Homo sapiens: one gene and its partners. The protein of the gene in region 4 binds, or shares a complex with, the protein of the main gene of each other region. Each region holds a gene or a part of one and is shown on either strand. Other genes may lie near its edges.

Region 1 (4,274 bases), on a different chromosome or scaffold from region 4:
TGTAACATCGAGAGTTACTTACAAGAATGTGCCTAACTGGCATAGAGATCTGGTACGAGTGTGTGAAAACATCCCCATTGTGTTGTGTGGCAACAAAGTGGATATTAAGGACAGGAAAGTGAAGGCGAAATCCATTGTCTTCCACCGAAAGAAGAATCTTCAGGTGTGTAAAATTAAAACTTCCTGAGTTATTTCTCTTAGCGGAGATTATATGTAAGACCATGAAATTAACCAGTGTCTATTATATATGGAAATGATTTTTTTTTCCCCAAGACGGAGTCTTCCTCTGTCCCCCATGCTGGAGTGCAGTGTCGCAATCTTGGCTCACTGCGACCTCCGCCTCCCGGGTTCAAGCAGTTTTGTCTCAGCTCCCCTAGTAGCTGGATTACAGGTGTGTACCACCACGCCTGGCTAATTTTTGTACTTTTTTTTCTAGTAGAGACGGGGTTTCCACCATGTTGGTCAGGCTGATCTCCAACTCCTGACCTCAAGTGATCCACTTGCCTTGGCCTCCTAAAGGGCTGGGATTACAGGCATGAGCCACTGTGCCCGGCCGGAAATAATTTTGTCTTTTTTATACTACTGTTTTTAAAGAATGATAGAGATTGGGTTTCACTGTTGGCCCGGTTGGTCAGCTGAAATGTTTGTGTATTTATATATTTGTTGTTCGAGACAGGGTCTTGCTCTGTTGCCCAGGCAGGAGTGCAGTGGCATGAACATAGCTCACTGTAGCCCTGAACTCCTGGGCTCAAGCAATCCTCCCACCTCAGCCTTCTGAGTAGCTGGGCTCACAGGCACTCACCACCATGCCCACCTAATTTGTTTTTTTGTGGAGTTGGGGTCTTGCTCTGTTGCCCAGGCCTGATCGTGTACTATTGGCCTCAGGCAATCCCACCTCAGCCCCCGAAAGTGCTGGGATTACAGGCATGAGCCACCATGCCTTGCCAAGAATCTTAACATTTTCTTATCTTGCAATGTCCTAGAAAAATCGTCATCTTAATAATGAATTTTAAAAAGTAATTTTACCTTTCTTTTAAACAGTACTACGACATTTCTGCCAAAAGTAACTACAACTTTGAAAAGCCCTTCCTCTGGCTTGCTAGGAAGCTCATTGGAGACCCTAACTTGGAATTTGTTGCCATGCCTGCTCTCGCCCCACCAGAAGTTGTCATGGACCCAGCTTTGGCAGCACAGTATGAGCACGACTTAGAGGTATTGTGGCCACTTTGCTGTTCAGATTGTTCGGTTTGGCTTGTTTATTCCTGGCAGTTTTGATCTGGAGTGTTAACGTTTTTCCATCTCTTCGTCTAGGTTGCTCAGACAACTGCTCTCCCGGATGAGGATGATGACCTGTGAGAATGAAGCTGGAGCCCAGCGTCAGAAGTCTAGTTTTATAGGCAGCTGTCCTGTGATGTCAGCGGTGCAGCGTGTGTGCCACCTCATTATTATCTAGCTAAGCGGAACATGTGCTTCATCTGTGGGATGCTGAAGGAGATGAGTGGGCTTCGGAGTGAATGTGGCAGTTTAAAAAATAACTTCATTGTTTGGACCTGCATATTTAGCTGTTTTGGAACGCAGTTGATTCCTTGAGTTTCATATATAAGACTGCTGCAGTCACATCACAATATTCAGTGGTGAAATCTTGTTTGTTACTGTCATTCCCATTCCTTTTCGTTTAGAATCAGAATAAAGTTGTATTTCAAATATCTAAGCAAGTGAACTCATCCCTTGTTTATAAATAGCATTTGGAAACCACTAAAGTAGGGAAGTTTTATGCCATGTTAATATTTGAATTGCCTTGCTTTTATCACTTAATTTGAAATCTATTGGGTTAATTTCTCCCTATGTTTATTTTTGTACATTTGAGCCATGTCACACAAACTGATGATGACAGGTCAGCAGTATTCTATTTGGTTAGAAGGGTTACATGGTGTAAATATTAGTGCAGTTAAGCTAAAGCAGTGTTTGCTCCACCTTCATATTGGCTAGGTAGGGTCACCTAGGGAAGCACTTGCTCAAAATCTGTGACCTGTCAGAATAAAAATGTGGTTTGTACATATCAAATAGATATTTTAAGGGTAATATTTTCTTTTATGGCAAAAGTAATCATGTTTTAATGTAGAACCTCAAACAGGATGGAACATCAGTGGATGGCAGGAGGTTGGGAATTCTTGCTGTTAAAAATAATTACAAATTTTGCACTTTTTTGTTTGAATGTTAGATGCTTAGTGTGAAGTTGATACGCAAGGAAAATGGTCCATGTTTACCCACAGTTTTCAGGTACTCCTAGACTTTAAAGATGTCTTGAACATTTAAGTTCTTCAGCAGTTCACACTACACCGTTTTTTTGTTTTTTTTTCCCCCCCGGGAGGGTTTTTTTGTAGGGCAGCACAGCAGAGCAGGACATGGATGAAATACTAGGAATATGCACAGTGGGGCAGTGTGGGGGCTTCTCAGTAATGGAGAACAGTTGGTGAAACTTTTTTTTTTTTTTAACTAAGCATTTAATTTATCTTGCATATTTTCCACATTTAAAAATGAATTAGGTCTATTAGGATAATTAGGAGTTTGATCCCATCAACACTATTCTTGTAGCAGTTAGGAATCTTGAGCTATTTTTTTCTCATACGATTACTATAGTCCAGTTTACCAAAGTTTTCTTTAGATGTCTGATAATCTTGAGATGATTGCTTACCTTAAAAGGTATAGAAAGGATCACTTAAATATATGGAAAAATGAAATAAGGGTGAAGCTGAATAAAGTTCTACTTACTGTATTAACTGGCAACAGTTGAGTTTCTTAAGATCTGAATTGCTGTGTATGTTACGCTGTATTCAGAACCAGTTTCTAACCAGCCTGTGAGATGGGAAGTTTTTTCCCCATAATTGGGATGAAACCTTTCATTCAGGTATTTTGAATTGAAGGTGTATGTGTTGTTTGTAACCTTGTGGAGATTGCAAGTGGTGTTGACATTCTGGATCTTCTATGTAACAGTTGAAATTTGGAAGTGACGTCACTTACCTGTCTAACGTGGTGTGGGAGAGAATTTACAAGTCCTTTATTGAAAGAATAATTGTTGCAAAATATATTGCTTCTACTTTGCCTGGATTTTTTGAATCATCTCTAGTATTTGCTTTAGGAAATGCTGAAGAGTTAGCAGAGATTATTATCTTTTGGGGGGGCGGCGGGGAAGGGGTCAGTTCTCTCCAGATTGTACAAATGGGAAAAGTCTGCTCTCCATTTTTTGAAATCTCGTGTCTAATGGGGGAAGCCTTGAAAGCTTTATATGAAGTTACTGCAAACCAGTAATAGCTTATTAGAGCAAAGTCATTAAGAAAAAGCATAGTTAGTGCATAGGTCTTGTGTGGATATAATGTGAAACTGGTAAATTAGTAGTTTCAATTTGTGTGAGAGCCAGTTTTTTTAAAAAACCACATAGAATGGGATTTTTTAAAAAATTGTATCAATCATAAAATGTCTAGAAAAGATGAGACTCCAAAATAGCCTCCAAAGAGGACTGGTTTCCTGGCTAACTGTTCACCTGAAGGAACTCAAGTACAGAGAATTTCTGGTTTCTTTTGCAAAAACAGATCAGAAACACAAAAAATTACCTGCTGAGCAAATGGGATGAGGGTTGGATTCAGCTTTTCTTGCCAGCAAACTGACGGACATCGTGTATGATGTTTTCTGCCACTCGGGCTGTACAGGGCTATCCTGCCCAGCAAGATTACGTGAGACTAAGCTTTCCCTGTATGAGGCAGACCCTGTACTAGGACAGCACCTATCCTAACTCCTTGCAGCACCTTTTACCCTTGAAGCCGAGGGCATGGTGGGGAGAAACGGCACCTAACCATGGAAACCTTATCTTTAGTTAAGGGGTCAGAGTCCTATTCAAAAAACATCTGATGCATCTCGCCTGCTCCACATTTCCTACAAGGTCTTGCAGGCTCTGGTCACACGTGCATCTTGAGATCTGTGTGCATGCTGCTTTCCAGAACTCCCCCTTCCCTCTCCTGAAGTCGGTCCTACCAGTTAATGCTTTAGTTCCTTTAGAGTTCACTCTGCTTTTTACCTTGAGTTGGATGTCCGACTACAGACATTACAAGATTGCCTTCAGCCCTAGTCAGCATGGCAAATTTGCGATAGCGACTTTCCCTTCCTAGACTAATTGCCACGAGGGCGAGGGCCATGTCGCTGCTCTCTCATGTCCCTAGTGTTTATTAAATGTTCTATGGGAACCTCGAGGAACAGAGAACTTGGGGGTTAGAGATAGG
Region 2 (8,161 bases), on a different chromosome or scaffold from region 4:
CAGTGAGCTGAGATCGTGCCATTGCACTCCAGCCTGGATGACAGAATGAGACTCCGTCTCACAAAAAATAAACAAATAAATAAATAAATAAACTTTTACCACAGAGGTGAGGGCATGATTAAACAACAAGGAGCATATAGCCACCGAGTACGGCAGAATTCTACAGGAAGCACTGTCATAGTCTCACTAGCTTGTCCTTACTTCCCAGGCAGGTAACAATATACTGTAGTTGCCCTAAACAACTATTTACTAAGCCCGTATTATAGCTTGGCTAAGTAAAGTATAAAATATGCAGCTTTTTTTTTTTTTTTGAGACAGGGTCTTACTCTGTCACCCAGACTGGAGTGCAGTGGCATGATCACTACTCACTGCAGCCTCAACCTCCCAGGCTCAAGTGATCCTCCTACCTCAGTCTCCTGAGTAGCTGGGATCACAGGCATGCACCACCATGTCTGGCTAATTTTTTTGATTTTTTGGTAGAGGCAGGTCTCACTATGTTGCCCAGGCTGGTCTGGAACTCCTGGGCTCAAGTGATCCTTCTGCCTCAGCCTCCCAAAGTGCTGAGATTACAGGTGTATGCCACTGCACCTGGCCTAAAATATGCAGCTTTTAAACATCTAAGATAGAACAAGACTATCCCTCTAGTGGAGATGTGTTAGAAGATCTTAGGCTGGGCACGGTGGCTCAAGCCTGTAATCCCAGCACTTTGGGAGGCAAAGGCGGGCAGATCACTTGATGTCAGGAGTTCAAGACCAGCCTGACCATCATGGCGAAACCGTCTCTACTAAAAATACAAAAATTAGCTGGGCGTCATGGCACACACCTATAATCCCAGCTACTCTGGAGGCTGAGGCAGCAGAATCGTTTGAATCCAGGAAGCGGAGGTTGCAGTGAACCAAGATGGCACCACTGTACTCCAGTCTGGGCAACAGCGTGAGACTCCATCTCAAAATAAATAAATAAATTAGCTGGGCCTGGTGGCACATGCCTGTAATTCCAGCTACTTGGGAGGCTAAAGCAGAAGAATCGTTGGAACCCGGGAGGTAGAGGTTGCAGTGAGGTGAGATCACGGCACTGCACTCCAGTCTGGGTGACAGAGGGAGATCCTGTCTCAAAAAAAAAAAAAAAAAAAAATCTCAGGCTCACCCTTCCTTGCCACCAAAAATAAAAGGAAAGGGTAGGTTTCAGTGCTTTCCTCACTTCCTCCTTTTATTACACTACCTCTTTCTCACTTTCTATATATCTGATGTAAGCTTTCTACAATATCCTATGTCCTAATTAAGGGTATTTGAAGACGCTAGTTTGAGAAAAACAGAACATCACATTAGCCATTCTGCTTTAGAGAAAGATAGACTGCAATGGTAGCTTTTAAGCAGTGCTCCAGAACATGTAAACTACTTTCCAGAAACATAGGGGAATAACAAACAAAAGGGAAAAAGTAATGGCCAGGTAAAGCACAATCCAATTTGAGAAATTTGCTAATAGTTATAAGTACCAAACTATGCAAATGAGTTGTTTTTCATTTTAGGAATCAGAGAATTCCAGGTTATCCCCTTCTAATAGTGCTGAGGGATAGTACACACTCTGCTGCACTTTCTAAGGAGGAGAAGAAGAGCTTTAGCGATTGATGCTTAACCCACAGTCTGTCATCCAGACTCTAGAGGACAAGAAGCCTCTTGGTAACATAGCAAATTGTGGCTACTAAACAATATCATAATATTTATTTTCCTACGAATGTTATCAAAATCTCGGTATGCCCCTGAGATTATGTCAAAAGATCTCACTGATTTTTTTAAAAAACAGAAGGCCTGCCTCATCTGTAAAATGGGGAAAAGATCACCTTACTTCCCTGAAACTAGACTACATAGATCTCTTAAAATCTCTTTCACCTTTAAGGTCATGAGCCTGAGCCAGGTACGGTGGCTCACACCTGTAATCCCAGCACTTTGGGAGGCCAAGGTGGGTGGATCACTTGAGGTCAGGAGTTCAAGACCAGCCTGGCCAACACGGTGAAACCCTGTCTCTACTAAAATACAAAAATTAGCTGCACTTTGGGAGGCCAAGGAGGGTGGATCACTTGAGGTCAGGAGTTCGAGACCAGCCTGGCCAATATGGTGAAACTCCGTCTCTACTAAAATATAAAAATTAGCTGGGCATGGTGGTGCACACCTGTAATCCCAGCTACTCAGGAGACTGAGGCAGGAGAATCGCTTGAACCTGGGAGGTGGAGGTTGCAGTGAACCGAGATTGTGCCACTGCACTCCAGCCTGGGTGACACAGCGAGACTCTGTCCCAAAAAAAAAAAAAAAAAGATCATGAGCCTGAAATTCTGAGGTCTTCTTTCTTTTCTTTTACCCTTGCTTTGCTTTTTTTTCTCTCAAAAGCAACCAATGGAGTTGTACTGTCCAACACAGTAGCTAGTAGCCAGATATGGTTACCTAACTTAAAGTTTTATTAGAATCAAATAAAGTTTAAAATTCAGTTCCTCAGTTGAACTAGCCACATTTCGAGTGCTCAACAGTTATCACTGCAGGAAGTTCTCTTGGGCAGCACTTTACAGGCCTTTACAAACTCTGCTACCCACCGCTTACCCTTTGGTTTAGATTCCCTTCTACAATTTGCCATTCAGAAAATCATACTACATATTTAATGGGAATGATGCAATAAGTGATCCTTAACATAGAATCCATAAAACAGATGATTGTCCTAAATAATTAAGTCAGAAACCTTCTGTAATACCAACGTTTGTGTGTGTTTTTTTTTTTTAACCACATCCAAGTACAAGCTATTTATATTTTTCTTTAAAACTGACTTCCTTTTTTGGCTTAAAAAAAAAAGATAATTTTAAATTACTACTGTATATGTAAAGCCAACATCACCTGCCTTATAAAGAAATGAAAACACAGCCGGGTGAGGTGGCTCACGCCTGTAATACCAACACTTTGGGAAGCCGAGGCGGGCGATCACTTGAGGTCAGGAATTCGAGACCAGTCTGGCCAACATGGTGAAACCCTGTCTCTATTAAAAACACAAAAATTAGCCGGGCATAGTGGTGGGCGCCTGTAATCCCAGCTACTCGGGAGGCTGAGGCAGGAGAATCACTTGAACCTGGGAGGTGGAGGTTGCAACAAGCCAAGATCGCACCATTGCACTGCAGCTTGGGCAACGAGAAAGAAACTCCGTCTCAAAAAAAAAAAAAAAAAGAAATGAAAACACAATAATACTAAGTTCTAGTTGGGCCTGTTAAAAAATGGGAGATTAGCATATATTAGACAAGTATTGAAGATATACTAGCATTAAATCAAGATTTTCTGTGTGAAATAAACAGGATGTGAGCACCTCAAATAAATAACTGAAAAGGATACACCTTTCTTAGTACATAATCATCATTCAAATGTTACATAATGCTGTGAATGTTGAATCCCCTAAAATCATTTCCTAAATTGGTATCTATCCTGTGCTTTGGGAAATACTGTTCTAATGAATTTAGTATAAATTCCTGTCATTTGAAAATCCTTGGCCGGGGATGGTGGTTCACGCCTGTAATCCCAACATTTTGGAAAGCCAAGGTGAGAGGATCACTTAATTAAGCCCAGGAGTTCGAGATCAGCCTGAGCAATATAGCAAGACCCTGTCTCTATTAAAAAACTAAACAAAACAAAACAGAACGATAATTTGATCTACCTGTCTTCAGCCATTTTTTTTCCCTGAGCTCTATTCACTATTTCTTGAATTTACACAACTTTCCCATACTATTCCCTCTGCCTAGAATATTTTTCCTTCCTATTGCTCTCCTTTGATATCCTATCCATCCTTCAAGACCTGGGCTAACATACTAACTCATACTAACTCCCGCAAACATTTACTGAGACTCGATGAGCTGAAAATTGGATAGGATTTTGTTACTATCTTTGTTTTTTTATTTTTTATATTTTCATTGACATTAGCATTATTATGTGATTGTCTTATACCCCCTACCATATTATCATATAAGGTCCTTAAAAATGGAGACCCAGGCCGGGCACGGTGGCTCACGCCTGTAATTCCAGCACTTTGGGAGGCCAAGGCAGGTGGATCACTTGAGGTCAGGAGCTTGAGACCAGCCTGGCCAACATGGCGAAACCCTGTCTCTACTAAAAATACAAAAATTAGCCGGGTGTGGTGGTGGGCACCTGTAGTCCCAGCTACTTGGGAAGCTGAGGCAGGGGAATCACTTGAACCTGGGAGGCGGAGGTTGCAGTGGGCCGAGAATGTGCCATTGCACTCCAGCCTGAGCAACAGAGCAAGACTCCATCTCAAAAAAAAAAAAAAAGGAGACCCTGTCTTACTAATTTTTGTATTTTCTGTAAAACCTAACACATTGGTTAGCACTGAGACATGCTCAATAAGTACTCACTGAATTTAAACGAAATATTAACACAAATATGTCCACACTCAATTACCACATCTGGAGGTAGACCCAAATTTATAATCATTTTTGAGAAAGAGGAATATATTATTATAGCATTTTACTATGCCTTTTTCCTTTAATCTACTTTTATTTTCTTTATCCATTCAGATATACTGAAGTAAAAGACTTGGCTGGGCACAGTGGCTCATATCCATAATCCCGGCACTTTGGAAGGGCAGGAGTTCCAAGATCAGCCTGGGCAACATATGGAGACTCAGTATCCACATACAAAATAATTTGCCAGGTGTGGTGGTATGGGCCTATAGTCCCAGCTACTCAGGAGACTGAGGCAGGAGGATTGTGTGAGCCCAGGAGTTTGAGACTGCAGTGAGCTACGATCGTGCCACTGCACTGAAGCCTGGGCAACACAGTGATACCCTTGCCTCTTACAAAATTAAAAAAAAAAATTGTTGATGACAAGATCAAGACAGAGCAAGATCCTGTCTCAAAAAAAAAAAAAAAAAAAAAAAGAAATATTACCGGTTCTTAAAGACAGGAGTATTCTTTCAAAATGCCACTGCTGCCTATTTTCAGCCTGGACAATGTGGCAAGACCCTGTTTCTACAAAAAAAATACAAAAATCAGCTAGGTGTGATAACGTGCCTGTAGGCCCAACCAACTACTTGGGAGGCTGAGATGGAAGGATCACCTGGGCCCAGGGAGGTGGAGGCTGCAGTGAGCCATGATTATGCCACTGCATCCCAGCCTGGGTGACAGAATGAGACCCTGTCTCGAAAAAAAAAAATAGAAAAGATGGGTTCCCTCAGCCATCTGAACTAGAGTCACCTCAGTTTGAAACATTTACAACATTTCCTCCTTAAAAATAAGTAGGGCCAGGCGCGGGGGCTCACGCCTGTAATCCCAGCACTTTGGGAGGCTGAGGCAGGTGGATCACGAAGTCAGGAGACTGAGACTATCCTGGCTAACATGGTGAAACCCCGTCTCTACTAAAAATACAAAAAATTAGCCGGGCATGATGGCGGGCGCCTGTAGTCCCAGCTACTCAGGAGGCTGAGGCAGGAGAATGGTGTGAACCCGGGAGGTGGAGGTTGCAGTGAGTCGAGATTGCACCACTACACTCCAGCCTGGGTGACAGAGCGAGACTCCATCTCAAAAAATAAATAAATAAGAAGTATCTTTTCTTTGTAGAATGATTTAGAATTTTAAAATGCACAGTCTACACCTAGGCTTATTTACCTGCAAGGATTAGACAAGTCCCTGGTAACAGTAGTTACCTCTAGAAAAGATAAGAAAGGGATAGGAAAGAGACTTTCTTGGGTTGGGTGCGGTGGCTCACGCCTGTAACCCCAGCACTTTGGGAGGCCGAGGCGGGCAGATCACGAGGTCAGGAGATGGAGACCATCCTGGCTAACACGGTGAAACCCCATCTCTACTAAAAATACAAAAAAACTAGCCAGGTGTGGTGGTGGGTGCCTGTAATCCCAGCTACTCGGGAGGCTGAGGCAGGAGAATGGCGTGAACCTGGGAGGCAGAGCTTGCAGTGAGCCGAGATTGCGCCACTGCACTCCAGCCTGCGACAGAGCAAGACTCTGTCTCAAAAAAAAAAAAAAAAAAAAAAAGGAGACTTTCTTTTTTTTTTTTTTTTTTTTTTTTGAGATGGAGTGTCGCTCTGTCGCCCAGGCTGGAGTGCAGAGTGCAGTAGCAGATTCTTGGCTCACTGCAACCTCCGCCTCCCAGGTTCACGCGATTCTCGTGCCTCAGCCTCCCGAGTAGCTGTGACTATAGGCGTGCACCACTTGGCTAATTTTTTAATGTTTAGTAGAGATGGGGTTTCACCATGTTGGCCAGGCTGGTCTCAAACTCCTGACCTCAAGTGATCCTCCCACCTCAGCCTCTGAAGTGCTGGAATTAAAGGTTTGAGCCACCACGTCGGGCCAGGAAAGAGACTTAAGTTTTTTTGTTTTTTTTTTTCCTGACACAGTCCTGCTCTGTCGCCCCAGGCTGAAGTGCAATGGCACCATCTTGGCTCACAGCAACCTCCACCTCCCAGGTTCAAGCGATTCTCCTGCCTCAGCCTCCCGAGTAGCTGGGATTACAAGCTCCTGCCACCACAGCAAGCTAATTTTTGTATTTTTAGTAGAGACAGGGTTTTGCCATGTTGGCCAGGCTGGTCTCAAACTCCTGACCTCAGGTGATCCGCCTGCCTTGGCCTCCCAAAGTGCTAGGATTACAGCCACTGCGCCCGGCCAAGACTTACTTTTTACCAGATACTTTTTACCTTTTGAATTTTGTTCCATGCATATATTTTTCCTATTTAAAAACTAAAAATTTTTAAAATTTATATTCAGTACCTAATCTTGGTCTTTTGGCTGGTATTTCATCAGTGTCCACTGTAGAAAACAGAGTGCTGAAAAAGAGAAAGAAAAAAATATATATATATAGATTTACACACACATTCATTTCTGTAAGTAAACTTACTATTCATATAACACATCCCCCTTCTATCACTTTGTCATAAAATGAGATCCAACTGATGTTTTAAAAGAGAATGCTGGTGGGACACAGTGGCTCGTGCCTGTAATCCCAGCACTTTGGGAGGCCAAGGGGGAGGATCGCTTGAGCCTTGGAGTTTGACATCAGCCTGGGCAACAAAGTAAGACCTCATCTCTACGATAAAAAAATAAATAAAAAATTAGCCAGCCTTGGTGGTAAGTGAGTGTGGTCCCAGCTACACTAAGGCAGGAGGATCACTTGAGCCCAGGAAGTAAGGCTGCAGTGAGCCCAGGTCATGCCACTGCACTCCAGCCTAATCAAAAGAGTGAGACCTTGTTTTAAAAAGAAATAAAACTAAAAATAAAAGCAAAACAAAAGAGAGAATGCTATTCTATAGTAGGCTTTTCACATGCGAAGACTTACTGCTACAGTTTCAACTATTTGAGAGAGAAACAAACTTCTTACCAAATAATAATTTGCCATCTGGTTAAAGTACAAACTTAAAACTGGCCAAAGTCACTTAGCTAGTAAATGAACCCAGGTAAGAGTTTAGGACAGTATTTTCTCTTTCGCTCCAGAAATGATTTAAAAACAACAAACAAGCAATTTCCTTTTGAAAATGATCCCCAAAGAAAGCCATCTTTTACTTTAGGTGACAGTATTAATATGAACAGCCTTAAAAGACAATTCTTTTTTACTGTTTTTTCTTTTGTGTGTGTGTAAGGGAGTTAAAAAAAACTGTTCTACAACTTAAAAAAGACAAATCTTAATCAAGTGTTATATTTAACTTCATTTTTATCACGCAAACTACATTATGATGGTAATAAAGAACTTTGGAATTGAGGAAAGTTTCAGGACCCAGATGTCAAGAATGCTAAAGGGTCATAGTATATTACTCATCATCTCTCTGAACCCTTATGATCAATTATATTCACACATGCAAAAAAAAAAAATGAATAGAATGAGATCCCAGGATTCCATTCAGCTCATAACTTTATACATTCCAACAAGCCCTGCCGGGCTTCATTTTGACTGAAAATTGGTTTACACTGAGAAGTGTTGTTTTGGATTAAGGATGTGAACACCTAAAGTATAGTAAAGATCAAGGTTTTGATCGCCAAACCATGTTCCACTGACTAGCAGGGATTCACATCAAGGAGAGGACAAGGGAGAGGAAATTAGCTTTCCCTTATTCCATAAATAGGGACCAAGTGCTTATCATGCACCAGACTCTGCAAAAGGCCCCAGAGTAGGACA
Region 3 (8,161 bases), on a different chromosome or scaffold from region 4:
GAAACGTTTTGAAGTCTCATCAGTTTTGTCAATAATGGACCAATTCTTGAACTCCTAATTTCTTGAGTTTTACATTATTTTTACATCATATCAATCATAGGTGACTCATCTTTTGGAGTTCTAATCTGTTGTAACAGACGTTATATTTAAATAAGACAATTGCATTAAAATAGAATTTGCTGCCATTATTGTTATGGACATTTTTAAGCTGTTATAAAATAGCCAGGAATTAATGACTTTTTTTCCGCCCTGCCAAGCTAGTTTGTCTAAATATAATGTAAAGAAATTAGCTACTCATTTTCTGGTCCACGAAAGTTCCTAAAATGGGAAGAAGTGGAGATCTGACCTTGTTAGTTCTAAATACACTAAACTGGGAGTGCCATGGATGGCTTTCAGGATGTCCTGAATCCTCTATAATTGTATACAAAATCGTGAGTTTTTAAAAACTGGGTTAGAGCTATTGGTTCCTCAGAGTCTCAGGCATCTTAGACCCCCAAAAAGGTTAAGGACTACTGACTTAACCAATTAGGTTTGAGTGGCATTGGCTTTGAAGAAAAGCAGAGGAAAGATATATTTTATAATTCTGGGCAACAAAAAAGTGGATGTGTGCCAGCATCTTAGAGTAGAATCCTCTTAAAAGGATAGCACTGCATATGAACTAGTAGGTTTTAACCAGTGCATATTTAGGCGAAGTAGCTCATTTTTCTGTTAGAATTCTTTTTTATTTGGGAATGGGCAAGCTTTTACAGCTTTTACCTTGCCAATGAATACCTGGAATTTAAAAAATCTTGTTAGGCATATTGCCCATAAAGTTTTTTTTCCTAGATCATATATTCAGTAAATATGTTTGTAGCTTTATTTCAATCCCCCAATTCATTGAGGGTTGAAACAATTTGAATGGTTTGAGTGTAGAAGCTAAGTTATTTCTGTAGAGGCTAAGGGCATTTATACCAAGATATGTTAGACTTGTGGTTCCTGCTAACCATTGCTGTAGACAATAGGAATTACTGTATATCCACATTTTAATTTTTAACATCATTCTGTCTTTGTTTGTTTGTTTTTGAGATGGAGTCTCATTCTCTTGCCCAGGCTAGAGTGTGGTGGTGCATCTCGGCTTACTGCAAACTCCGTCTCCTGGGTTCAAGCAGTTCTCCTGCCTCAGCTTCCCAAGTAGCTGGGATTACAGGTGCCCGCCTCCATGCCTGGCTGATTTTTGTATTTTTAGTAGAGACGGGGTTTTGCCATGTTGGCCAGGCTGGTCTGGAACTCCTGACCTCAAGTGATTCGCCCACCTCGGCCTCCCAAAGTGCTGGGATTACAGGTGTGAGCCACCACGCTCGGCCCATTCTGTCTTTATAGCATTATTTTTATAAAGTTAAGATAATGTGAAGTGAGCTTTTACTGAGTTATTCAGAAGACCCTACTTGGGAAGAAAAGAAAATCACATTCACTTGAACTTAATCCTACTTGCTTAAAAAGTTTTGACATCAAGATACTGAACTGTATCACGTTTTAGGACCATAAAATCCTAATAGTGGATGCGTTTAAATAATAGGTTAGCATACTTTATAAATGTTAGTAGAATAGGAAAGTCTTCCTGGTGTATAAACTAAACACTAGAAAAGTTGAATGGACCATAATAATTTATGTAATTATCAAATAGCTAAGTAATTTCAGCTTTTGTTACTTGCTTTTACTATCTCAGTTTTCTGTAATTAAAGTCTCTAAAGTATTCATTAAAATATTTGTAATAACATGGTTGAAGTAAAATAACTTGTAGGAAGTTTTTGATAATACCAAAACTTGATAGGCAGCTTCAATTTTTTTTCTTTATTTTCAGTAATCTATGCCAGCAATTATGACAATGTTAGCAGACCATGCAGCTCGTCAGCTGCTTGATTTCAGCCAAAAACTGGATATCAACTTATTAGATAATGTGGTGAATTGCTTATACCATGGAGAAGGAGCCCAGGTAAAGTAGCCAACCAAAACTTTATAACATTATGACAGTGTAACAGAGTTGTTGGGTTTAGAATAAAATTTTAAATTATCACCTTTAAAAAAGATATTCCATAGTTTGCATTAATTTGGAATTCTGTATTAACCATAATGAAAATTGGTTTGGAGAAAGAAATTGCATGTTTGACATGGTTAGAGTGGGTTGTTTTGGAATATTATACTTGTTTTGTCCTTAAGAGCCAAATGTTATTAAATACTTTGTAGGTATTAAAGGTTCTCTGTACTTTTATATATACTTAATATGTTTGGCACTAATACGATTCTTCTACTTTTAAAACATTTACAGAAGTACTTCACAGATATGTTTGTTTAAATAAAAACAGGAATACCAAGTATTTTTATGTTAGTTGAATTTTGTGCACTTTTCAAAGTGGTACTGTTAATGTAGGGAATTATCTTAAACATAAACCAAATTTTGATCAGTTTAAGATTTTTGGTTTTTTTGAACCCAACTAAAAGGTGAAACAGAAATGTGTGTACAATTTTAAATTGTATATGTCACAAGAAAAAAAACTTGATTTTTTACCTGTGGGGCCAAACTTTTTTTTGAGACAGTCTCGCTCTGTGGTCCAGGCAGGAGTGCAGTGGCGCTATCTCAGCTCACTGCAACCCCTGCCTCCTGGGTTCAAGCGATTGTCTTGCCTCAGCCTCCCTGGTAGCTGGGATTACAGGCACACGCCACCATGCCTGGCTAATTTTTGTATTTTTAGTAGAGATGGGGTTTCACCGTGTTGGCCAGGCTGGTCTTGGAACTCCTGACCTCAGGTGATCCACCTGACTCGGCCTCCCAAAGTGCTGGGATTACAGGCATGAGCCACCGCGTGCTGGCCCAAACATGTTTTTGAATGAGTAAAAAGTTTTGCAGTTGGGTCAGAAATCTTTTTTTTTTTTCAGATGGAGTCTTGCTCTGTCACCAGGCCTGAGTGCAGTGGCACAGTCTCGGCTCACTGCAACCTCTGCCTCCCAGGTTTTCAAGCAATTCACCTGCCTTAGCCTCCCGAGTAGCTGGGACTACAGACGCGCCACCATGCCCAGCTAATTTTTTGTATTTTAGTAGAGATGGGTTTCATCATATTGGCCAGGATGGTCTCCATCTCCTGACCTCGTGATCCGCCTGCCTTGGCCTCCCAAAGTGTGGAGATGACAGGCATGAGCCACCGCGCCTGGCCAGAAATCTTTTATGGTAGTTTTGTTGCCAGAACAGTAGATTTCTGGTTAGATAAATGTTCAGCTAGTAGATGGGAGGTTACTTATATTGTCAAGATATTTATATTTGCATAATTAAGAAACTGAGTGCCGGCCGGGCGCGGTGGCTCACGCCTGTAATCCCAGCACTTTGAGAGGCCGACGCCGGCGGATGACGAGGTCAGGAGATCGAGACCATCCTGGCTAACACGGTGAAACCCCGTCTCTACTAAAAACACAAAAAATTAGCCAGGCGTGGTGGCGGGCGCCTGTAGTCCCAGCTACTCGGGAGGCTGAGGCAGGAGAATGGCGTGAACCCGGGAGGCGGAGCTTGCAGTGAGCCGAGGTTGCGCCACTGCACTCCAGCCTGGGCAACGGCATGAGACTTCGTCTCAAAAATAAAAATAAATAAATAAAATAAAATAAAAAAACCTAAACCTGAGTGCCATTACACTTTCTGAAAATATATAAGGTGGATACAGTACTATCTTTTATAGTAGTCCAAAAAGCATCATGTATAAATGTTTCCATTCCCTTATGAAATGCAACAGTACTGCTTTTACTATAGTAGAAACTTGAAAAAGGTCCATGGAAACGCTAAAAGTAGAAAAAATTACTCTTGCAGTGATTCTGTAAGCTTGTTAGCCCAGGTTTATACTTTTAGGGCGTTTTGATCAGTATATTATCTCCTAAAGCATTCTTGAAAAAATTAACCATCCGTATTTATTATCCCTGTCATTTAGTTGTTACTCATGCTATACATTCAACATGAAGCTTTAAGCTTCATTTCTTCTAGCATGGATGCATAGAAAGCAGCTGCTTTTGGAGGAAGCTATGAAAGTAAGGTTGGGTTCAACTCTGAATGTAATATTGGAAGCACAGGTCTGTAGCCATTGGGAAAAAGGGCATTTAATTTTTTCCGCATAGATTCAGCTACTAATACTGTTTAATCTTCACACTAAACTAGTTCACTACATCTAAAGGTATGATAAATAAACCAACATAGAGCAGTGTTCTTCATGGCTTGTAACAGAATTAGTGGCAATTTTTGTAATTGAGAATATATTACAGCAATACTGCTTTTAATAATGTTTCATAGTATTAAGAAATTTAATGGTTTGTTTTAAAATTGACTTGTTAATAAAAAGTAGATTAAGAAAAGTGTTTCTAAATTTTTTTGTTTGTAAGGACAATAGGTTAACTTTCCCAAAGTAAAAGGATTTTGTCTGCAGTAGTTAATAGATCATGTGACAAAATCAGTTGCGTAGAAATAACTAGCAAACTTATTTTGTATTATAAATGAAGAAACAAGATTTAGAGCTTAAAGCTGGTTAAGGAGTCCTTTTGGTCTCTAAAAGTCCTATGTCGTTAGTTCAGTCTACTTTTCGTTTACCACCTCCTTGGGGGTCTTATTTCAAAGGAAAAGGAGTAGTAGTAGCAGCGAGCTGCTATAGTGGAAAACATGATTTTTAGTGTTAGACGTCTTAATTTGATTCTTGGAAGCTCTCTCTAGTCATTGCTTAAGTCCCATGTACAAATATGACCTGTCCTACAAGAGATTGGAGGGTTAGTTATGAGGTTTAAAAGCACCTATTACAGTGCTTGATAGGTAGAAGGCACTCAGCTTAAAGGGTACATTTAGCAGTATAATGAAAATGATTTAGCATATGTGATACTCATTGCTTAAAATTAAAAAAATTTTTTTTTTGCTACTCATAAAATATGCACTAATGACAAGAAAAATTTATTATGCTAATTAAGCTTTTAAAGTCAACTGGGAAAAAAAGCTGTAGGTAGGTTTTTTTTTTTTTAAAGGAATGTGTAACTTGGGGGAGGGGAAGAAATTATTTACAAGGGTGACTTTTAATCTGTAGACAGAACTTCTGCATACATGGTTAGTATAGTAGGATATTTAGCAGTGTAACATTAGGACTACCCTCTACCCTCTGTTATCAGCATTTTTCTATTTTTAGCCAAGTAGACAGCTAGAAAAAAGATGCGGGAAGAGTTGGATGTTTTCTCCAATATTGTGTTCTGTTAAAGATCTTGAACTCTATTGCTTAGCAACTAAAATGCTTTCACCATTCAGTTAGTAGTACAAGGGAGATGCTAGGTTTTCTCTCTTTAGTTTGCTTTTGTGTCTTTTTTTTTTAAACCCCTGCTGGGGTTTTAAGTTTATAAAGAACATTATGTAAGAATGGTGGGATTAGAATAAATCAGAATGCAAATACTAGAAGTAGCATCAGAGAGTAAAATTACAACTAACAGGAAAGAATATTATTTATGTAGCGATTGATGTGAGTGGTGATAGTGTGGGAAGTATTTGATTCTGTGTAGAATGCTTATCACTTCAAAGCATCTGACAAAATGGTAACTTGACCAAGTAACTTTTACTGTGTGAGGATCTTTGATACAACTTTTCCTCTAGTTAGATAAGGTTATCTAGCTAGATATTCTCAGGGAGAAGACCAAAACACTGCTAAAATGTGCTTTGGCCCTAGATAAGCCACATCATTATTCTTTCGGCCTTCTGTCATTTCTCATATGACACATTATGCCCATCAGTCCTTTAATGAAATCAAATAGAAATGTGTATGATTGTATTTTAAAGTATACACATTAACTCTTGTAACCACAGACTCACAATGGAAGCAGGCGTCTGATCTTTTCAGGCAACCACAGTGGTTCTGGTGGGTTTCTGGGTAGAGAACAACCATATAAGTTATTGAGTGTGTAGCAGTGTGTTTTCCTGATTGATGTATGGGATAGTCATGAATGTGGTATTGTATTTCCTACCTGAGGAAAAGGTCATGATTAAAATAAAGCATCAAAGCCAGGATAAGCATATAATTTCTTTCTTTTTTTTTTTTTTTGTAATGAGACAGAGTCTCACTCTGTAGCCCAGGCTGGAGTGCAGTGGTGTGATCTCAAATCACTGCAACCTCCGCCTTCCGGGTCCTGGTTCAAGCAATTCTCCTGCCTCAGCCTCCTGAGTAACTGGGATTACAAGTACGCCCCACCATGCCCAGCTAATTTTTGAATTTTTAGTAGAGACGGGGTTTCACCATGTTGGCCAGGCTGGTCTTGAACTTCTGACCTCGTGATCCACCCACCTTGGCCACCCAAAGTGTTGGGATTACAGGCGTGAGCCACGGTGCCCACCCGAGCATACGATTGTTTTAAAAAAGACTAGAATAAAAGCCAAGCTAAAGATTATAAGGTATCTTTGTCAGAAATGGTTGTGAGAGTGCTTCCTACCCTGTTTTTGATGCTTTATTGTTTATAACCATAGAATTAAACCCATGATAAAGTAAAGTATAAGAGAAAGATAACTGACAGATTTTAAAGTCATCAAACTTTTTTCTTGCTCTGTCACACAGGCTGGAGCACAATGGCTTGATCACAGCTCACTGCAGCCTTGACTTCCCAGGCTCAATCTTCCCACCTCAGCCTCCTGAGTAGCTGGGACCATAAGTGCGTGTCCCACCACACCTGGCTCATTATTAATTTTTCTTTGTTGCCCAGGCTGGTCTTGAACTCCTGGGATTACAGACATGAGCCACCACACCTGGTCCAAACTTTTTGCTTACAACTTTTAATAGAAATAGGTAAAAGAAATAGGAAGGATCTAATTGAGTTATAAAACAACCTTTAAAGATACAAAAGTGAAAAAGATTAAGCCATTGCTTTTTGTCAATAGAATTAAAAGCTGTTGGTAAAAATATTAATGTATGAAAAACTTATTGAAATGAAAAAACTATATATATATATATATATATATATATATATATATATATATATATATAAATAAAATGTCGACATGGCTGGATCTTAAAAACTGTCAAATGAAAAAAACTAATTGCAGGAAAGATTTTTTTTTTTTTTTTGAGAGGGAGTCTCACGCAGTCAACCCAGGTTGGAGTGCACTGGGGCAATCTTCCTGATTCTTGGGGAATCTTGGCTCACTGCAACCTCCGCTCCTGGATTCAAGCGATTCTCCTGCCTCAGCCTCCCGAGTAGCTGGGACTATAGGCGCACGCCACCATTCCCGGCTAGTTTTTGTATTTTTAGTAGAGATGGGGTTTCGCCATATTGGTCAGGATGGTCTTGAACTCCTGACCTTGTGATCTGCTCACCTCGGCCTCCCATAGTGCCAGGATTACAGGCGTAAGCCACCGTGCCCAGCCTAAAAGATTTTTAAGTATACTATTAACATAAAATTTGGTAGCCGTACAACCCTATTCATGAAATTTACACACATGCCGTGAAAATGTGGACAGGAAAAGACACACTAAGTTCATGATGAAAGCCATTACTTTTTAAAGAAGGAACAAAGGTGTAATCCCAGCACTTTGGGGAGGCTGAGGCAGGCGGGTCACGAGGTCAGGAGTTCAAGACCAGCCTGGCCAATACAGTGAAACCCTGTCTCTACTGAAAATACAAAAATTAGCCAGGCGTGGTGGCAGGTGCCTGTAGTCCCAGCTACTTGGGAGGCTGAGGCAGGAGAATTGCTTGAACCCGGGAGGTGAAGGTTGCAGTGAGTCGAGATCCTGCCATTGCACTCCAGCCTGGGTGACAGAGCAAGACTCCAACTTTAAAAAAAAAAAAGAGAGAAAAAAGGAATAAAGGAAGGAAATGGCACTAGGGAAAGGCACAAAGATGACTTCCATAAACTTTAGTTATTTTATGCTAAAAGAAAATCTGATACAAGCACAAGATGATGACTACGTAGATTAGTATTTCTGGGTTGCATGTTAAAAATATGAAAATAAAAACGGAAATAGTTTCCAAAACAAAGATTTTATATATGAAATTAGTGAAATTTCAGAATGGAGAAAGGATGGTTACAATAAATGTTAGGAGCCCTCTTTAAAGAGCTCAAATGGTATGTAAGTATTTGGGATTTGTGGTTTAATTAGACCTAGTTTTCAGCAGTCTTTCCATGAAATGTATTTTT
Region 4 (8,908 bases):
CCGGCTGGAGTGCAGTGGCGTGATCTCGGCTCACTGCAACCTCCACCTCCTAGGTTCAAGTGATTCTCCTGCCTAGGCCTCCCAAGTAGCTGGGACCACAGGCACGTGCCACAGTGCCTGGCTAATTTTTTTGTATTTTTAGTAGAGACAGGGTTTCACCATATTGGTCAGGCTGGTCTTGAACTCCTGACCTCGTGATCTGCCCACCTCGGCCTCCCAAAGTGCTGGGATTACAGGCGGGAGCCACCGCACCCAGCCGATGAAGGAATTATTAAAAGAGAAGATAATCTGCCAGAAACCATTTGGTACCGGGAAATCCTCCATAAACATTAGAGCAGAATTTAAAACTCCTCCATAGACACCATCCTTTTCAATCTCTTTCATCACTGGATTTTTCAGGAGCTGGAACAGTGCCTATTGGAACATAGATGTTTGATAACTATTTGTAGAACAAATGAATTATTGTAATGATGGTTATTTATCAAGGTTAAATAGTTGCTCTAGTGGGATGCCCTTGGTTTGAGTCCTGAGAAAGATGTGGTTCGACTGTCCTTCATAGATGATGCAGCCAACCCACTCCCACCAGTGGAGGGGACCCTGGGGGAGGCTGCCTTGCCCTGCAGGTGGGCTGACCCATCTCTCTCCAGGGGCTGCAGGCGAGCACCCAGTTGGGTGTTGGGAATTTCCCTCCACATTCCTCACATGTCTGGCATACTTTAGCCATTTGTTTTTGATCTGACTAAATGGCAAGTCAGCAGCCTTGGTCTGTTTTCAGGAATCCAACATAAATATTATTATTTATTCCATTTACAATTGGCAATTAAGTTCGTTTTCAGGCACCAGAATGGAATTTAAAACACTCAGTTAAGTAAACCAGACTAATCAGAGGCAGCCTGCTTTTGTCTTTGAAACATTCTTTACAAAAACAACAAAAAAAGGCTGCACAACAGAGAAAGGCCTGGAACACTCTCTGCTTCTCCTGATTCCCCCTTAAACTCACCTCGCACTCACAAGTGAAGTGTATATGTTGAAAACAACCCTAGAAGGCCGGAAATGGTGGCTCACACCTGTAATCCCAGCACTTTGGGAAGCCAAGGTGGGTGGATCACCTGAGTCAGGAGTTTGAGACTAGCCTGGACAACACAGTGAAACCCCATCTCTACTAAAAATGCAAAAATAAGCTGGGCATGGTGGTGGGAACCTGTAATCCCAGCTACTCGGGAGTCTTAGGCAGGAGAATCGTTTGAACCCGGGAGGCAGAGGTTACAGTGAGCCTTGATTGTGCCATTGCACTCCAGCCTGGGTGACAGAGTGAGACTCCATCTCAAAAAAAAAAAAAAAAAAGTAATAATAATAATAGAAAAGGACCCTAGAGACCTGTCTTCTATTCTCTTTCTCTCTCTCTCTCTCTCTCTTTTTTTTTTTTCTTTGAGACAGGGTCTTGTTCTATCATTCAGGCTGGAGTGCAGTGGCCTGACCATGGCTCACTGCAACCAACCTCCACGTTCTGGGCTCAAGGATCCTCCTGCATCAGCCTCCCTAGTAGCTGGGACTCCAAGTATGTACCACCATGCCTGGCTAATTGTTTTTAGTAGAGACAGAGTCTCACTATATTGCCCAGACTGGTCTCAAATCCTGGGCTTTAGCAATCTTCCTGCCTTGGCCTCCCACAGTGCTGGCATTACAGTTGGTTGTGAGCCACCATGCTCAGCCTTGTCTCATGTGTAAGTCACACTGTAACTTGGGCCTTAGTTCTTCATTTGTTGAAATAAGGAACAAGATAGTCTTGGATGACACTATCCATCTGTCAAAGGCCATGATTACACTTCTTGGGCCAGGCAGACTAGCTCTCAGGTGATAACTTGAAAGAGAGAAAGCTGGAGAAAGGGCTGGAAGGAGAAAGAGAGAAGATAAGTGTGTTGCTTGGAAACAGTGATGATTCTTTTTTTTGAGGCAGAATTTTGCTCTTGTTGCCTAGGCTGGAGTGCAATGGCGTGATCTCAGCTCACTGCAACCTCCGCCTCTTGGGTTCAAGAGATTCTCCTGCCCCAGCCTCCCGAGTAGCTGGGATTACAGGTGTCTGCCACCATGCCCAGCTAATTTTTTGTATTTTTAGTAGAGACAGGGTTTCACCATGTTGGCCAGGCTGGTCTCGAATTCCTGACGTCAGATGATCCACCTGCCTCGCCCTCCCGAAGTGCTGGGATTACAGGCATGAGCCACTGTGCCCGGCCAGAAACAGTGATGATTCTTGATTCTTCTGATTCACTGGGCACCCTTGGGCAAACCCCCTGTTCCTTTTCAAACCCCAGTCTCCCCATTTGTAAAGAGGTTTAAGATAGATTCAGGAGGCCGGCCACAGTGGCTCACGCCTGTACTGTACTCCCAGCACTTTGGGAGGCCGAGGTAAGTGGATCACCAGGTCAGGAGTTTGAGACCATCCTGGCCAATATGGTGAAACCGTCTCTACTAAAAATACAAAAATTAGCCGGGCGTGGTGGCGTGCACCTGTAGTCCCAGCTACTCGGGAGGCTGAGGCAGAAGAATCACTTGAACCTGGGAGGCGGAGGTTGCAGTGAGCTGAGATCGCACCACTGCACTCCAGCCTGAGCAACAGAGTGAAACTCCATCTCAAAAAAAAAAAAAAAAAAAATCAGGATATAGGAGTGACAGAATCCAGATTGCTAGGGGGTGCTGTCAGGCTGAGTTTGTGATTTTTAGCTTCGAATGTGAACACCTTCAGGCAGAACATCCACTCTCTAACTCCCCCCAAGCCCCACCAAGCCCCGACAAGCCCCATGACTTCCTGTTACCTCCCAGGTCCTTGAAGGCCACTGAATTTCTGTTGTCTAAGAATTCCCTTCCAGTTCCGAAAACCCAATGTCCTATCAGCTGGATGAGGACGGGATCAGCTAAGATGTTCCCCTGCCCACCTTCCTCTTCCCTTTGGGAGGTCTCTGTGTGAGGGCCAAGGAAAGTCTCAAGAAGTAAAATTGGAAAAGGGAGCCTGCGGATCACCCCAAGGAAAATCCAGACTGATTCGATCAGTCCTAGCTGGAAGCAGCACAGGAATAGCAGGAAGCCTATGACTCATTTTAAGCAAACATCCGGTAACCCGACTGGTATCTGGTTCAAATGGGGAAACCTGAAGCACCTATGACAGGCCAGGCCCAGAGAAGATACTGCCCAGATGGATACAGCGTCTGCTCTGGAGACCCTCCCAGGCTGAGGAGGAAACTGCCAAGAACAGTGTTAACTCTGTCAAAGAGCCCCAGAGTCCCAGGCCAACTGCTGTGGGGCTTTGCATCTTGCTGTGGGCACCTGCAGGAGGGAGAGACTCATGAAGTAGCATTTGACATGGGCCTTGTAGGTAAAAAGGAGAGGGAAGGTGGAAAGAGGATCCACATCTCAGGAACTTTGAGAACTGGGAGAGTTACACTCTGTCTAGAGCTTCAGTTTTCTCATCTCTGTGCTGGGAAGGGTGGTAATGATGCCCACTTCCCTTGTGGTGGTGAAGATTAAATGAGCTGTGTGTAAAAGGATATGGCATGATCTGTTAATTAATTAATTAATTTATTTATTTATTTAGAGACGGAGTTTCGCTCTTGTTGCCCAGGCTGGAGTGCAATGGTGCGTCTCGGCTCACTGCAACCTCCGCCTCCCGGGTTCAAGCGATTCTTCTGCCTCAGCCTCCCGAGTAGCTGGGATTCCAGGCATGCGTCACCATGCCCAGCTAATTTTATATTTTTAGTAGAGACGGGGTTTCTCCATTTTGGTCAGGCTGGTCTCAAACTCCTGACCTCAGGTGATCCGCCCGCCTCGGCCTCCCAAAGTGCTGGGATTACAGGTGTGAGCCACTGCGCCCAGCCTGCATGATCTGTTTAACTTTTTTTTTTTTTCTTTTTTCAGTTTTTGAGACAAGGTCTTGCTCTGTCGCCAGGGCTGAAATGCAGTGGTGCAATCACGGCTCACTGCAGCCTCAAGCTCCCAGGCTCCAGATCCTCCTGCCTCAGGCCCTTAGCTGAGACTACAGGCTTGCACCATCACGTCCAACTAATTTTTGTATTTTTTGTCGAGACAGGGTTTGACCATGTTGCCCAGGCTGGTCTCACACTCTCTCGCCTATAATCCCAACACTTTGGGAGGCCAAGATGGGCAACAAGAGTGAAACTCCATCTCAAAAAAAAAAAACAAAAAAAAAACGCTGTTTGTGTTTTTATGCTTAAATTCACACCTACAGAAAAGTTGCAAAAATGTTCAAAGAACTCCCATATTCTTCAACCAGATTAACTGATTAACATTTTGCCACATTTGTGTCTCTGCTTTCTCTATGTATATGTATAGGTATATTTCTTTTAACCATAAAGGTTGCAGACATCATGTCCTTTTTGTCCCTAATTATTTCAGCATTTTTTTCCAAGAACAAGGGCAGTCTCTTACATAACCCTGTACCATAATCAAAATTAATAAATTTAACATTGATACAATACTATTATCTAATATAGTCAAGTTTTGCTGTTTCAGTATTGTCCTTTATAGCAATCCCCACCCAGGATCCGATCCAGGACCATGTCTTGCATTCAGTTGTCTTTTTCGTTTCCTGTAATCGGCAACAGTTCCTCAGTTTTTCTTTGTCTTACATAATACAGACATTTCCGGAAGGGTACAGATCAGTTATTCTGTACCATGTCCCTCAGCTTGGGTTTCTCATGATTAGACTAAGGTCATGCATTATAGACCGGACGGTGACGCCGTGTTTTTCTCAGTGCATCACACAGAAAGCGTGCGATGAATGTCAGCTTGTCCTGCTGTTGATGTTAACGTGGCCGTTCAAGTGGTGTCTGCGGAGCTTCTCTACGATAGTTACTATTTCCCCTTTTTAATTATCAGGTAATTTGTGCATATTTATGTGGAAGCCTTCGAATGCCCTTTCAGTTTCATGGGACGGAAAAGAGTCTTTTCTTTCGGGAAATGGATACCTGTGTCTTGCCCAAGAGACCCAGCAGCCAGCAGTACCTGTTATCAACAAAGTTACGCGAACAAAACCTTTCCGGAAGAGCTGAGGGACCTGGGTGCAACGCATTCTGGGAATTGTAGTCTCTGGGCGCTCCCGGCTGAACACCTCCCTGCGGTCTCTGCGAGAAAGAGCCAGAAGCCACCAGGGGAGGGCGAAGAGGAGGGCGGTGGAGGACGCTCTGCGCGCGGTGCGCCATGGGACGGGTAGTTCGCGGTGCGCGCCCCATCGCGCTCCCAGATGGGGAACCGGACTACTCTACCCGAGAGGCCGCGCGAGCGGGGCGAGGGCAAGCCGGCCGGGGCCTCGAACAAATCAAATCGAAGCAAAGAAACTGCCGGCTTTCAAAATCCTCCTCCTCCGCCATCATCCGCCGCGGTGCGGAGAGCAGGTGGTGCTGGAAGCGCGTGAGGCCGGGAGCTCGAGAGAGCTAACAGACTAGCCGGCTGGACATCTGGACCGCTGGATCCGGAGGTGGCGACCCCGGCCTGACCCGGACCCTAAATCCGTCCCCGCCCCAGAGGGCGGAGGCGCGCGCTCGATTCCCCCCACGCGGCGGCGCCGCCTGTTTACGGTAGAGTCAGGGTCCCTTTCCTTTCCCCGTCACCTGCCTGGAACAGGGGTGCGGGGCGAGGAGGGCGTGGCGCCCGTGTGCGCCTTCTGCCTGCCCCCTCGGCCTTCTTCACTTAGCCTTCGACGGCCGAGCGCCCCAGGGGTGGCGGTGGGAGTGGGGTTGTTGAGCGGCGCTGGCTCCTTTCACAAATGGGGAAACTGAGGCTTAAAGGGCGTCTGACTCGCCAGAGCAGCTCAGCCTGCAGCTGCTAGCAGTGGCGTCTCATATTAGCATTGTTGTCAACCGGAGGCGGTGCGAGTCCGCCGGGGATTCCAGATGGGGCTCCTGCGCCGCCCGCCTATCATTTGCGGCCTGTATTCGCGCGTCGCTCCCGCAGAGCCACCTCCCAGCAGGCCCACGCCCGCGGGGGCCCCGGGCTGGCGCCGCTGTCCCTGGAATCGATGTGAGTCACTGCTGACGCTTTGCAGGAGCATGCATCTCACCTCAGAAAGTCTCTGACGTTGCTGCGGAGCGGGGAGAGGATGTTTCTCTATTAGCCCTTTGCTTTTGCTCTGGCGCTGATCCTTTGCTGACCTTGGACAAATCAATTTACGTTTCTGTGCTCCAGTTTCTTGGTTTATAAAGTGAGTGTGGAGGGGTGCATCTCTGTCTCGCTCTCTCTTGGACTGAGGAATGGGCCCCCGTTCAGCTGAGAAGTTCTGTCCCTATTCTATCTGGAGGCTTCACCACCACCTTTTACCCTCAAATTGTCCCATCTCAGAACTGCAAGAGATGCTGGGGTTTCAGGTTAATTTTTTTGTTGGTTTTTCTTTAAATTTTTTTATCTTTTTAGAGACGGTCTCCTTCTGTCACCCAGGCTGGAGTGTAGTGGAACGATCACCGCTGAACTGCAGCGTCGGCTTCCTGGGCTCAAGCGATCCTCCCACCTCAACCTCCCAAGTCATGGGGACTACAGATGCCATCACACCTGGCTAATTTTTAAATTTTTCTGTGGAGACAGGGTCTCATTCTGTTGCCCAGGCTTGTCTCGAACCCTGGTCTAAAGTGATCTTCCCGCCTAGCCTCCCAAAATGTTGGAATTACAGGTGTGAGTTATTGCACTGGGCTGGTTTCTGGTTAATTTATTTTTTGAAACAGGGTCTCCAGAAGTACAGCAGCAAGATCTCAGCTCACTGTAGCCTCCACCTACGGGGCTCAAGTGATCCTCCCACCTTACATCCCAGGTAGCTGGGACTGCAGGCACCTGCCACCACACCCAGCTAGTTTTTGTATTTTTAGTGGAGACAGGGTTTCGGCATACTGCCCAGGCTGGTTTCTAACTCCTGTGCTCAATCGATCCGCCCACCTCAGCCTCCGGAAATGCTGGGATTGCAGGAGTGAACCATTACACCCGACTCTGGTTAATTTTTTTTTTTTTTGAGACGGAGTTTCACTCTTGTTGCCCACGTTGGAGTGCAATGCCACGATCTCAGCTCACCCCAACATCTGCCTCCCAGATTCAAGCGATTCTCCTGCCTCAGCCTCCTGAGTAGCTGGGATTACAGGCATGTGCCACCACGCCCGGTTAATTTTGTATTTTTGGTAGAGACAGGGTTTCTCCATGTTGGCCAGGGTGGTCTCGAACTCCCGACCTCAGGTAATCCACCCACCTCAGCCTCCCAAAGTGCTGAGATTATAGGCGTGAGCTACCGCACCCGGCCTGGTTAATTTTTATTTTATTTTATTTTATTTTATTTTTTTGAGGTGAGTCTCGCTCTGTTGCCCAGGCTGGAGTGCAGTGGCGCAATCTCAGCTCACTGCAAGCTCCACCTACCGGGTTCATGCCATTCTCTTGCCTCAGCCTCCCGAGTAGCTGGGACTACAGGCCCCCGCCACCAGGCCCGGCTAATTTTTTGTATTTTTAGTGGAGACGGGTTTCACCGTGTTAGCCAGGATGGTCTCGATCTCCTGACCTCGTGATCCGCCCACCTCAGCCTCCCAAAGTACTAGGATTATAGGTGTGAGCCTTTGCGCCCGGCCCTGGCCTGGTTAATTTTTATGCAATTTCAACTGGTCGTTTCTTGAGCACCTTCTAAATGCCAGGCTCTATGTGGCAAGTAGAGTGATCCTGTCAAAATGTACGTCAGATGACATCTGCTTTCTGCTAAAAACTTCAGTGGTTTTCCTTGTCACTTATAGCGAAAGCCACTGTTCTTCAAATGGGCTTTATGACTTGGGCCCCTTGTTAACTGTCTCTTCTCTTACCTTGTTTTTTTCCTCTCTCTCTGTGCTTCAGCCCCACTGGCCCTGTTGCAGTTTCTCCAACCCTCTGCCCCTACAAGAGCCATTGCATTTGCTATTCCCTTTGCAGGAATCATGTTCCCCCAGATGTGTGCATGGCCCAATCCCTGATATCTTTATTTAACTATTTCCTAATAATGCCTTTTTGTTGTTGTTGTTAATGCCTTTTTGTTGTTGTTGTTGTTATTTGTTTGTTTTGAGTTGGAGTCTTGCTCTGTCGCCAGGCTGGAATGCAATGGCGCGATCTTGGCTCACTGCAACCTCCGCCTCCCGGGTTCAAGCAATTCTCCTGCCTCAACCTCCCGAGTAGCTGGGACTAAAGGCGTGTGCCACCACGCCCAGCTAATTTTTGTATTTTTAGTAGAGACGGGGTTTCACCATGTTGGCCTGGCTGGTCTTGAACTCCTGACCTCGTGATCCACCTGCCTCGGTCTCCCAAAGTGCTGAGATTACAGCCGTGAACCACCACTCCCGGCCCCCCAACCCCCCCCTTTTTTTTTTAAATCACATACTAAATGTGTCATTTAGAACATATGCTTCAAGAGGTCAGGGTTTATGCTTCCTTTACTGCTATACTGCTGACCTGGAACAACATCCAGCACACAGTAGTAATCAATGTGTTTTTGAATGAATGAGTGGACACCTTACCCAGGATAATAATTCATGCTTATTGATAAAGGCAGACAAACCAGGGTTATAAGTTAGAACCCAGAGGAAGCCTAGGGGTGGGAGGATTCAGGGTATCACAACTGTATCTGAGAATGAGGAGGTTGTAGGAGGAGGCCTTTCGGATAGCACCCCCTAGTTCTGCCCCTCATATCTGCTTCCTTGGTCTCTCCTGATTACTTGCTGTTTCTTTTCTTTTTTTGGAGCATCTCACAGATACGTTTATTCATACCACAAAGTAAACACTATTCAGGTATGTAGTGATGTTCCACGTTCCTGTCTAATATAGCTGGCTTCAATTTATAGGCAGTACACATTGAGACATTTAATCTCACATGTACTCCAAGTAAAGCTGGAGTACCATGAGCAGGCGC

The links.
Region 1: the proteins of RANGAP1 (region 4) and RAN are in contact, whole or in part, in a cryo-EM structure (PDB 9B62), measured with the Homo sapiens proteins. Residues at the interface, in NP_001265580.1 of Homo sapiens: Ser29, Gly58, Asn59, Thr60, Asp86, Thr89, Gly90, Arg91, Leu92, Arg93, Ile96, Asp121, Ala123, Phe124, Gly125, Asp127, Asn151, Cys152, Gly153, Met154, Gly155, Arg189, Asn190, Arg191, Gln217, Asn244, Asp245, Asn246, Thr247, Asp273; in NP_006316.1 of Homo sapiens: Asp18, Gly20, Tyr39, Val40, Ala41, Thr42, Leu43, Gly44, Val45, Glu46, Glu70, Lys71, Leu75, Arg76, Tyr79, Asp91, Thr93, Ser94, Arg95, Val96, Thr97, Asn100, Lys123, Asp128, Arg129, Lys130, Lys132, Lys134.
Region 2: the proteins of RANGAP1 (region 4) and SENP2 are in contact, whole or in part, in a crystal structure (PDB 2IO3), measured with the Homo sapiens proteins. Residues at the interface, in NP_001265580.1 of Homo sapiens: Glu467, Asn508, Thr511, Thr514, Arg515, Val518, His519, Leu523, Lys524, Ser525, Glu526, Asp527, Val529; in NP_067640.2 of Homo sapiens: Tyr408, His409, Trp410, Val477, His478, Asp495, Met497, Gly498, Gln499, Lys500, Pro536, His537, Gln541, Gln542, Asn544, Gly545.
Region 3: the proteins of RANGAP1 (region 4) and XPO1 are in contact, whole or in part, in a cryo-EM structure (PDB 9B62), measured with the Homo sapiens proteins. Residues at the interface, in NP_001265580.1 of Homo sapiens: Ala2, Asp5, Ile6, Leu9, Ala10, Thr12, Leu13, Ala14, Thr16, Gln17, Val18, Ala19, Gln22, Leu23, Ser24, Phe25, Lys28, Glu44, Arg55, Ala561, Thr564, Lys565, Pro566, Ser568, Glu571, Ser572, Ser574, Phe575, Arg577, His578; in NP_003391.1 of Homo sapiens: Lys245, Ser248, Thr249, Tyr252, Lys253, Glu281, Gln282, Val284, Thr285, Leu289, Met292, Gln293, Gln296, Arg340, Asn342, Leu343, Lys514, Val518, Ile521, Lys522, Leu525, Glu529, Arg532, Lys534, Lys537, Ala538, Ala541, Met545, Phe554, His558.

Annotation. Positions count from the first base shown.
Region 1 is NC_000012.12:130,874,571-130,878,844, forward strand, and holds the end of RAN (GTP-binding nuclear protein Ran), read left to right. Parts: coding exon 1-163; intron 164-1,041; coding exon 1,042-1,212; intron 1,213-1,311; coding exon 1,312-1,356; 3' UTR 1,357-3,108; downstream 3,109-4,274. UniProt on the Homo sapiens protein: GTPase involved in nucleocytoplasmic transport, participating both to the import and the export from the nucleus of proteins and RNAs. Switches between a cytoplasmic GDP- and a nuclear GTP-bound state by nucleotide exchange and GTP hydrolysis.
Region 2 is NC_000003.12:185,588,771-185,596,931, reverse strand, and holds part of SENP2 (sentrin-specific protease 2), read right to left. Parts: intron 6,819-8,161; coding exon 6,763-6,818; intron 1-6,762. UniProt on the Homo sapiens protein: Protease that catalyzes two essential functions in the SUMO pathway.
Region 3 is NC_000002.12:61,527,583-61,535,743, reverse strand, and holds part of XPO1 (exportin-1), read left to right. Parts: intron 1-1,065; exon of another isoform or gene 1,066-1,321; intron 1,322-1,840; 5' UTR 1,841-1,846; coding exon 1,847-1,972; intron 1,973-8,161. UniProt on the Homo sapiens protein: Mediates the nuclear export of cellular proteins (cargos) bearing a leucine-rich nuclear export signal (NES) and of RNAs.
Region 4 is NC_000022.11:41,282,666-41,291,573, reverse strand, and holds the start of RANGAP1 (ran GTPase-activating protein 1), read left to right. Parts: upstream 1-5,386; 5' UTR 5,387-5,588; exon of another isoform or gene 5,589-5,903; coding exon of another isoform or gene 5,904-6,030; exon of another isoform or gene 6,031-6,211; intron 6,212-6,420; exon of another isoform or gene 6,421-6,673; intron 6,674-6,731; exon of another isoform or gene 6,732-6,811; intron 6,812-7,791; exon of another isoform or gene 7,792-8,787; intron 8,788-8,908. UniProt on the Homo sapiens protein: GTPase activator for RAN. Converts cytoplasmic GTP-bound RAN to GDP-bound RAN, which is essential for RAN-mediated nuclear import and export. Mediates dissociation of cargo from nuclear export complexes containing XPO1, RAN and RANBP2 after nuclear export.